Regions from separate parts of the Homo sapiens genome. Here region 1 is linked to region 2. The links come from fine-mapping of genetic effects on gene expression. A gene starts in region 2. The other region holds a variant in brackets. All regions are shown on one strand. Distances are from middle to middle. Region 1 overlaps NIPSNAP2 (nipsnap homolog 2). Region 2 holds the start of NIPSNAP2 (nipsnap homolog 2).

Evidence for each region. PIP is the estimated chance that this variant, and not a neighbour inherited with it, causes the effect. A credible set is the group of variants that fine-mapping cannot tell apart.
Region 1: its variant is the best candidate, but not a certain one, in a credible set for the expression of NIPSNAP2 in whole blood (INTERVAL, PIP 0.68).

What each region holds. Positions count from the first base shown.
Region 1 is chr7:55,988,795-55,994,314 of GRCh38, forward strand. All of the region lies in intron 7 of NIPSNAP2 (nipsnap homolog 2), which reads left to right. Among named protein-coding and RNA genes, the nearest start is that of NIPSNAP2, 27 kb to the left of the region's middle. RefSeq lists a silencer at 3,729-3,929. The variant G/C (reference allele first, on the strand shown) is at 3,104.
Region 2 is chr7:55,962,138-55,967,137 of GRCh38, forward strand. NIPSNAP2 (nipsnap homolog 2) reads left to right here and starts at 2,448. Exons shown (of 10, transcript NM_001483.3): 1 at 2,448-2,564. The coding sequence starts at 2,473. RefSeq lists enhancers at 2,108-2,187, 2,757-3,490 and silencers at 2,338-2,447, 2,508-2,987.

The DNA of each region.
Region 1 (5,520 bases), 27 kb after region 2:
GTGGAGGTTGCAGTGAGCCAAGGTCACGCCTCTGCACTCCAGCCTGGGTGACAGAGCAAGACTCCATCTCAAAAAAAAGAAAAAAAAAATTACATATGACCCAGCAATTTCATTCCTGGGTGTCTACCCAAAAGATACCATCCATATAAACACTTATATATATGTGTATAAGTGTTTCTTATACAAGAATCTTTCCTCCTTGGATCATCAAAGGCTAAATAATGCAAGTTAGAAAGCAAACATCCATGTAAACACTTAAGTGACCATAGCAGCATGTTTTATAATAGCCAACAAGTAGAAACAACCTAAATGCCCATCAGCAGAGGGTGGGATTAGCCAGAGGGCCAGTTTACTAGCCCTGCTTTAAATGATAAAGCTGTCCACGTCCTCCCAGGAGCTACCTTAAATTCAAAACACAAGAAACACAAGAAGCATGCTGATTACAATTGTAACAAAATACCAGCTTTCACCATTATGATTTAATACCGTTTTTAGAAATCCTGACTATTATAATATGAGAAAAGACAGAGACATACAAAGCCTCAATAGGCCGGGTGCTATGGCTCACACCTCTAATTCCAACACTTCGGGCGGCTGAGGTGGGAGGATCCCTTGAGCCCAGGAGGTCAAGACCAGCCTTGGCAACATGGTGAAACCTCATCTCTACAAAAAATACTAAATTAGCCAGGTGCAGTGGTGCACTTGCCTGTAGTCCCAGCTACTCTGGAGGCTGAGCAGGAAGATCACTTGAGCCCTTGCTGTTGAGGCTGCAGCAAGCCATGATCATGCCATTCCACTCCAGCCTGGGCAACAGAGCAAGATCCTGTCCCAAAAAAGCCTCAATAATTAAGAGGGATGCAAGAATAAATTATTGACCATTGGTTAGCTGAAGTCAGTGCCTAGGACAGGAAATGGAAAGAAAAACACTAGTGACATTTAGGGTTCTGTGATGGTGAGATTGTTGGTGTTTTCTTTTTACCAGTCTCCATACTTACTTCATTATGGGATTTCTTTGGAAGCTAAAAATACTGCCTGGGCATGGTGGCTCACGCCTGTAATCCCAGCACTTTGGGAGGCTGAGGCAGACAGATCACTTGAGGTCAGGAGTTTGACACCAGCCTGGCCAACATGGTGAAACCCTGTCTACTAAAAATCCAAAAAAAAAAAAAAAAAATTAGCTGGGTGTGGTGGCGAGCACCTGTAGTCCCAGCTACTCAGGAGATGGAGGCTGCAGTGAGCCAAAATGGCACTACTGCACTCCAGCCTGGGCGACAGAGTGAGACTCCATCTCAGAATATATATATAATTTTGAAACATTGGGATAGTTTCCTAAAATAATCTGAAGCATACATCTATATCTAATTCAACAAAAGATTTATAGCATTTTTTTTCTTTGAAACTTAACATATTTCTGTACCTTAATTTTTGTTTCTTTTCTTTTTTTTTTTTTTTGAGACGGAGTCTTGCTCTGTTGCCCAGGCTGGAGTGCAGTGGTGCGAACTCGGCTCACTGCAAGCTCCGCCTCCCAGGTTCACGCCATTCTCCTGCCTCAGCCTCCTGAGTAGCTGGGACTACAGGCACCAGCCATCACACCCGGCTAATTTTTTGTGTGTTTTTTAGTAGAGACGGGGTTTCACTGTGTTAGCCAGGATGGCCTCGATCTCCTGACCTCATGATCCGCCTGCCTCGGCCTCCCGAAGTGCTGGGATTACAGGCATGAGCCACCGTGCCTAGCCTGTTTTTTGTTTTTAGGGGGAGATGTGTGTGTTTATTTCTTTGAAGTAATTATGTTAACTCTTACTTTTCTTTGGCAGCTTGCTATTTCTGTTTCCTAAGCTGGCATTTCATAACTATTTACCCACAAAGGGGGAGGCCACATGGTGCTGAGAAAAAGCTCTGGGTTTGAGTTACTTGACAGCTCTCACCTTGAAAAGAGAACTTGTACCTTTTTGCCTTTTTTTTTAACTTCAACTTATATCTTTTCTTTTTTCTTTTTCTTTTTTTTTTTTTTGAGACGGAGTCTTGCTCTGTTGCCCAGGCTGGAGTGCAGTGGCGCAGTCTCGGCTCACTCCAATCTCTGCCTCCTGGGTTCAAGCGATTAGCCTGCCTCAGCCTCCCAAGTAGTTGGGATTACAGGCGTGCACCGCCACACCTGGCTAATATGTTTTGTATTTTTAGTAGAGACAGAGTTTCGCCATGTTGGCCAGGCTGATCTCGAACTTCTGACTTCAAGTGATCTGCCTGCCTCAGCATCCCAAAGTGCTGGGATTACAGGTGTGAGCCACCGCGCTCGGCCCCAGTTTTTCTCTTTTTTCGGTTATGAAATTTCCTGCTGTGCATGAAATAATTTCTAAGATCCCTTCTGTCTCCAACAAATAGTTCTGTGATCTTTATTTCTAATGAACCTTTCCTCCTTAGATCATCAAAGGCTAAATAATGGAAGTTAGAATTTCTTTTCATTTGAAAACTAAGAAATACATATTTGGTTGTATGCTACTATTATATACAATTTTTGTTCTTTTGTTTTTGGACTATTGTTGTTAATCATGTAGCTACTCACGGAATAGGATTACTCACTAGTTCAATTTTTGCCCATTACTGATCAAGACTCGCTCGCCGTGGAATCCACAGGGACATACTGGGGTTATTCAGTTATTTAAAAAATTATTTGACCAGGCGCGGTGGCTCACACCTGTAATCCCAGCACATTGGAAGGCCAAGATGGGCAGATCACCTGAGGTCAGAAGTTCGAGACCAGCCTGACCAACATGGAGAAACCCTGTCTGTACTAAAAATAACAAAAATTAGCCAAGTGTGGTGGTGCATGCCTGTAATCCCAGCTACTCGGAAGGCTGAGGCAAGAGAATTACTTGAACCCATGAGGCAGAGGTTGTGGCAAGCCAAGATCGCACCATTGTACTCCACCGTGGGCAACAAGAGTGAAACTCTGTCTCAAAAAAAAAAAAAAAAAATATATATATATATATAATTTATAAAGCCAGTTTAGCATTCAATTTATATTTTGGCACATAGGTAACTAAGATGGTGACCACCTCGTCTGTACAGGCTTCTGATTGTTACCAGGCTAAGGCAAGTATGTTTT[G/C]TTTGCCTACCATAACTAAATTACAAAAATTCAGAATGAAATGAATAATCTGGAATATTTATCACTATCAATGAAAGCCAGGTTTTTTTCTTCTGAATAGAGTTAGAATGCACATTGAAGTGATTTGCTTAATTTCAATAATCAGATTTATAATTTCTGTGAAGATATTGATCACTTAATTCTCAATGTAAAGATTAAAGATGTCATCTTATTTGTGGATAATCCATGGGGGCAATAGCAAGAAGTCCCTTTTTCACCATAAAGGAACCCAAGCGCTTGGGTAAGGTTCCCATCATGGCACTGAGCCCATGGTGGATTAGAGCAGAGGTGTAGAGTGATTTTAAGGAGACTGGATTGCTTGAGCCCAGGAGTTCGAGACCAGCCCAAGCAACATAGCAAGGCCCCATCTCAACAACAACAAAAACATAATAAAAAATAAAAAATTGGCTGTGCTTAGTGGTGCAAGCCTGTAGTTCCAGCTACTCAGGAGGCCGGGGCAGGAGGCTCCCTCGAGCCCAAGAGTTCCAGACTGCAGTCAGCTAAGATCATGCCACTGTACTCCGGCCTGGGTGACAGAGTGAGTCTCTGTCTTAAAAAAGGAGATTGGCTTAGTCACTCACAGGAAATCACTCTTGGATTTTTTTCCCCCTTTTGAGATGTTATCATTCAGTATATATGAAGTTTGCCTCCAGGAAGAGAATGCTCAGCCAAGCCAACTCAAGCATCTTGTGCCTTGAGAGTGACATCTTTCACTGTCATTGTTAGTAGGTTGCTATCCTTGTTTATATGCTGCCAGCTCTTTTGAATGAATTAGAGTGAATCTGTCTTCCCAAGTCTTGTCACCTGTGGGACCCTGATATGACTGAGACTTCAGGCCAGAGCCTGGGCAGTGTGGTATGGATTTACTGGGTAATGCATGGTGTGTCATCTCCTGATAGACCTTAACCATGTGTCTTCTGGTGACCTCCCTATGTCATTTGAAGCCCCTTCCTTTTCACCTTTGATTCTAGAAGACTGCTTTTGAAAAAATGGGCACATTTTAAAACATTTTTAGGAATTCAGATGCATCACTAAATATTTTTTTTTTAAGTGGTGCAAGTATGAAAGGAAAGGGCTCTGAGCCAGGCGCAGTGGCTCACACCTGTAATCCAAGCACTTAGGGAGGCTGGGGTGGACAGATCACTTGAGGTCAGGAGTTCAAGACCAGCCTGGCCAATGTGGTGAAATCCCATCTCTACTAAAAATACAAAAATTAGCCAGGCGTGGTGGTGCACACCTGTAATCCCAGCTACACAGGAAGCTGAGGCAGGAGAATAGCTTAAACCTGGGAGGCAGAGGTTGCAGTGAGCCGAGATCCCGCCACTGCACTCCTGAGTGGCAGAGTAAGACTCCGTCTAAAAAAAAAAAAGGGCTGTAGGCTGGCCTGGTGGCTCATGCCTGTAATCCCAGCAGTTTGGGAGGCCGAAGCGGGGCAGATCGAGACCAGCCTGGCCAACATGGCGAAACCTCATGCCTACCAAAAATACAAAAAATTAGCCAGACGTGGTGGTGGGCGCCTGTAATCCCAGCTACTCGGGAGGTTGAGGCAGGAAAATCGCTTGAACCCAGAAGGTGGAGGTTGCAGTGAGCCAAGATCGTACCATTGCATTCCAGCCTGGGCAACAGCGAGACTCCATCTAAAAAAAAAAAAAAAAAAGCCGAGCGTGATGTCATGTGCCCATAACCCCAACTACTCAGGAGGCTGAGACACGAGAATAACTTGAACCCAGGAGATGGAGATTGCAGTAAGCTGAGATCACGCCGCTGCACTCCAGCCTGGGAGACAGAGGAAGACTGTTTCAAAAAAAATTAAAGAGCTGATACCTTTTGCAGTGGGAAATTCTTAAAGTTTTAAGCCAAGTGCCTATTTTTAACTGATCATAGTGTGATGTCCACAGAGGCACAATGTATATTAGTACTTTCTTCCATATTTGGTACATAATGAATGCCTTTGGTACTCATTTTCTGAATGGTTTGCTCTAGTAGGAAAGAAAAAAAAAAAAAGCAAGAGGCAGCTTTGCCTGCACTACTGAGGCTGTACCACCAGAAAGCTTCATTCCCATGGTTCCTCTGTATGGCATCCAAGAAGTTGCAGAGTCCCTTGTGTAGTTCAGAGAGCAGGGGTGTTTCTCAGGATTTCAGAGTCATCAGCTGCTTTGAAGGTGTGCTTCCTTCACCTGTGTTTTAACGCCCTGCCCCAGGGGTGGTCCCTGTCTCCCTTGGGTACAGTGCCCTGTGGCACCTTGGGTGCTCTAGTTCCAGGTTTGCCTCGCTTCCCCTCTGAGGGTGTTCTGGAGAAGCAGTGCTTTTTAAATTGACGGGTCCCATCCTCTGCCAGTTCTAGACTTTATTTCAAGAATCACCAGTGCAACTATATA
Region 2 (5,000 bases):
TCCTGGACATCACCTAAGTTCCATTATCCCCTTATTAGGTTACATCTTGTCCTCTTCCCTACTTGAAGTTTCGATTTCCCAATGGCTAAGCTTTCTTTCCTTTTATGGATTAGACACCCCTGCCACTTTTCTCCCTCCCCTCTGACTTCTGTGAGTTTTATCACTCTTCCCAGATGTCTGTACCCGTGCATCTTGTCACATCCACAAGGGAACTGCCCAGACTTGTCTGTTTTCTGAAAATGGACCACTTAAAAAGTACTTCTTACAGGGTTCTCCACAGCTTTACTAAGCATACACTAGTTGAGGCCAGGAGGTCCTCAGCCACACAGCCTCTGGCCTCCTATCCTTGTGTCCCTTGGCCTCCATCCCACTGGCCTCCAAGGGACAGGTGCCTTTCCCTGCTCTGGGGCAAAGCCCTCCTCCATCCACAGGGTCCACCTCTGTCCTCCCTGGTGGCTCCTTGCCATATTAACGTGTTCAAATTCTACCCCAGTCAGAAAACTGCACCCCTTGAGCCCTGATGCTCCCTTGGCCCCCAAGATTACCAGCTTCAGGGAACCTCCCAGTTTTTGTCCACCTTATGACCTCCAAGCAACCCAGTCCTGAGGGCACTTTCCTCTCTGCCTCTGCAGCCCCGCACTGGCCTGGAAATGCTCCCTTTGGTGGCCAGAGCCCCTACTTCTCCCAGGTTCTCCCCCACCCCCAGGGTCCAGCTTCCTTCCTCCTGCCCTCACCTTGGTTGCAGTTTTCATGGTTATATTTGTGGCTTTTTTCTTTTTCTTTTCTTTTTTTTTTTGAGATGGAGTCTCACTCTGTTGCCCAGGCTGGAGTGCAGAGGCACAATCTCGGCTCACTGCACCCTCCACCTCCCAGGTTCAAGCAATTCTCCCACTTCAGCCTCTCGAGTAGCTGGGATTACAGGCACCCGACAACATGCCTGCCTAATTTTTGTATTTTTGTAGAGATGGGATTTCACCATATTGGCCAGGCTGGTCTCGGACTCCTGACCTCAGGTGATCCGCCCGCCTCGGCCACCCGAAGTGCTGGGATTACAGACGTGAGCCACCGTGCCTGGCTCATTTGTGGCTTTTTAAAAAATCTTCCTGGAGGACACATTTTTCCCTCTATAGCGCCAGCCACCCAGATCCACGCCTTTGCTTAAGTTATTTCCTCAAGACAGGGATGCCCTCCCTTCTTCCCCTGGGACTGATATGTCCTGCCAGCTCCTTGGAGAACTTTCTCCCCATCTATCCTCTAATTCACAGCCACCCCCGGTTACATGCTCTCTTTCCGTGCCTCTTTCGTGTCTCATGAACCTGTCCATTTTGACACTTAACACACTCGGTCCAATCATCATTGTACATTCTGTCCCCACTAGACCCAGACGGCCTTGAGGGTAAGGTACCAAGGACTCCCCATGGCCAGTGCCCACCGGTGCTGAAATGAATGGGAACGATGCAGTCCCAAGACCTCAAGAGAACCTTCCCAGTCCTTTCTCCTTAATTTTTTTTGTGTGTGTATGGTGTTTTTTAATTTTTTCCTCACTTGCTTTCTTTTCTTTTCCTTTCTCTCTTTCTTTCTTTCTCCTGCCTCCCTCCCTTCCTTTCTTTCTCCTTCCTTCCCTCCTTTCTTTCTCCTGCCTCCCTTCCTTCCTCCTTTCTTTCTCCTTCCTTCCTTCCTTTCCCTCCCTTTCTTTCTCTCTCTTTCTCTCTTTCTTTCTTTCGCTACAGGACGTCGTGTGTTTGCCCAGGCTGGAGTGCAGTGGCACGATCATAGTTCACTACAGCCTCCACCTCCTGAACTCAAGCGATCCTTCTGCCTCAGTCTCCAGTGTAGCTGGCATCACAGACGTGCTCCTCCATGCCCGGCTAATTTAAAAATGTTTTTGCACAGTGAGGGCTCGCTATGTTGCCCAGGTTGGTCTCGAACTCCTGGCCTCAAGAGATCTCCGGCCTCAGCCTCCCAAAGTGCTGGGATGACAGGCGTGAGCTATTGCGTCCGGCCCCAGAATGCACTTGTTAAAGCGTTGTGGGGCTTTTTGAAATGACAATATATTCATATACTACAAAATTTAAAAGACATTGGCGGGGTGGGGTGGGGGTAAACCCACTGCCACTGCCCCGCCCCAGGCCCTGGATTCCCCTAGGCACAGTGTTACTCTTTCCTTTTGGAGTTTTCCCTGATCATTGAAGTTATGCCCTTGTCCCTTCTGCACCCGCGCTTCTGGGCACCGAGCTCCTCCCGCTGAAGTGATCGGCTTGCACTGACTGCGCTTGGGCTTCGCGCTTTCCCGCAGCGGCCGGGCCTTGGCGCCTGGACGCCCCGCCGACCCCCGCGGCCGCGCGCCCTGCTCCCCCTGGCGGCCGCGCCCCGCACTGCAGTGGCCGCGTTGGGGCCCGGCCGGGGGAGGGGTCGCGCGGCGGCGGCGTCAGCGGCGGCGCCCGGGCGGTGGGAGCCGAGGCGCCGAGCAAGATGGCGGCGCGAGTGCTGCGCGCCCGCGGAGCGGCCTGGGCCGGCGGCCTCCTGCAGCGGGCGGCCCCCTGCAGCCTCCTGCCCAGGCTCCGGTGAGCAGCGCCGCCCTTCCCGGGAGGTGCCGGGGAGGGGCCGCCGCGAGGCGGAGGGCGCGGGTTTCCCGGCGCCGGTCTCCGCCCCGGCCCTGTCCCCAGCGCGGGTGGCTGCCCGGCCTCGGGGCAGTGGGGCCGGAGCTGGGGTGGGGCCGGAGCTGGGGCGGGGTCGGGGCGTCCTCGGGCTCAAGGTCACGGAGGGGACGGGCCGCTCTGCGGCTCCACCCTCGCCCGGGAAGGCCCCCGAGGCTTGGCCCGGAGGCCACATCCTCCCCGCGGCGCTGGCCCGGCCTGCAGGGCCCTGACCGGCGCGACCCGTGGCCAGGGACAGGGACAGCGCGCGCCTGAGGCCGCAGGCCCCGGACGCCGTCTGCTGGGTCCTCGCCGGAGGCTGTTCCAAGCCTGAGTGGCTGCGTCTGCCGAGGACGTTGGTGACCCTGGTCTCTGAGGTGCCGGGAGTAGGGAATAAAAGAGTAAAGCATTGTCCCGGGCCAGCTCTCCGCGGAGCGTAGGGGAAGTTAGAGCTTGGAGGAGGTCAAATCACTTAACGTCTTGGAGTTGAAATTTAAAGCCGGCCGTGGATCTAAAAGTACTTAGAGTTATCAGCACTAAGTTCAGGCGTGGGGCTCTTGTTTAAACTTTTTTTTTTTTCTAACTTCAGTGGATTGGACGTTTGGTTGTCCAAATTCATCACCTTGATATTTGCATGTGCTGTTTTCCACATTCAAACAGCAAAGCCTATCCTGACTTACCCAGAGTTGCTTTCTCGTATTCATTGCTTTGGGTAGTTTAAATTACCTAAGGAACTGTGTGTTAAACTCGCCATGGGCCAGGGAGGTTTCAGTAACATGGTTTATTATTATTATTATTGTTGTTGTTTATTTATTTATATTTTTGAGACGGAGTTTTGCTCTCGTTGCCCCGGCTGAAGTGCAACGGCACGATCTTGTCTCACTGCAACCTCCGCCTCCCGGGTTCAAGTAATTCTCCTGCCTCATCCTCCCAAGTAGCTGGGATTACAGGCATGCACCACCACACCCGGCTAATTTTTGTATTTTTAGTAGAGACGGGGTTTCACCATGTTGGTCAGGCTGATCTCGAACTCCTGACCTCAGGTGATCCACCTGCCGCGGCCTCCCAAAGTGCAGGGATTACAGTCGTGAATCACCAGGCGCGGCCTGATCTTTTTAAAAAGATGAGTCTGACTTGGGAGAGGGGGCAGAATTAAGGGTAGTGGCCAGCTGAGTGGACCCTGGCACTGAGAGTTGAGAGTTTGCAGAGAGCTGTTCTGCCAAAATGTGAGTGCCTACCACGTGCCAGGCACTGTTGACTGTTGAGAGACATCAGTGAATAAGGCGTCCAAGGCCATCCGGAGCTTACCAGTAATTCAGGAGGGCTGGGGAAGAAGAATTCAGAGCAGTTTAGGACCTGGTAAAGTTTGTGAAGGCTGTGTGCTATTCAAGTGGAAACGCAAACAGACAGTTGGCAGTATGACTCCTCAAAGGAGGTGTCTGGGCTACAGGTAACATTTAGGAGTTGTCAGTATATAGGAATGCTAAATGTTAATAGACACATGGATTTCATTATACTGTTTCGTATTTGATTTACGTTTTTCATAATAAAGCCTGGACGCAGTGACTCACACTTGTAATCCCTGCACTTTGGAAGGTTGCGGCAGGAGGATTGCTTGAGCCCAGGAGTTTGAGACCAGCCTGGGCAACATAGTGGAACTCTGTCCCTAATAATAAATAAGTACATAAATAAAAATTTGTATAATGAAACTTTTTTTAAACCATAGGAAGCCGGGTGCAGTGGCTCAGGCTGTAATCCCAGCACTTTGGGAGGCCGAGCTGGGCTGATCGCTTGAGCTCAGGAGTTCGAGACCATCCCAGGCAACATGACAAAACACATCTCTACAAAAAATACAAAAATTAGCCCGGCATGGTGGCACACGCCTGTAGTCCCAGCTACTTGGTAGGCTGAGGTGGGAGTATGGCTTGAACCTGGGAGGTGGAGGTTGCAGTGAGCCGAGATCATGCCACTGCGTTCCAGCCTAGGTGACAGAGCCAGACCCTGTCTCCAAAATAAAACAAACAAAAAAATATAGGAATGTGTGAGATTGCTTGAGGCGAGAGTGTGGAGAGAGAAGGGGCTGCAAAGCAAGTCCTGGGATGTGCAGCGTATATAGGCTGAATGTAGGAGGGGGAGCTGGCAAGCTCATTGTTATGTGGCAGTGGCCAGGAGGAGGGAGGGAGTGCCATCCGCTGCCAAAGTGTTAGGTAAAATGACAGAAGAAAACAGGATTTGCTGAATCAGTTTCAGCAAGGGAGAAGGGCGTCCTCCCGGGAGCCTCATCCCTGCCTGTACATTAGCCAGCGTATTTCACTTAGTGCTGCTCAGCAGCAAGCTTGGAATTCCCAGCCGCTTCCTGGACAT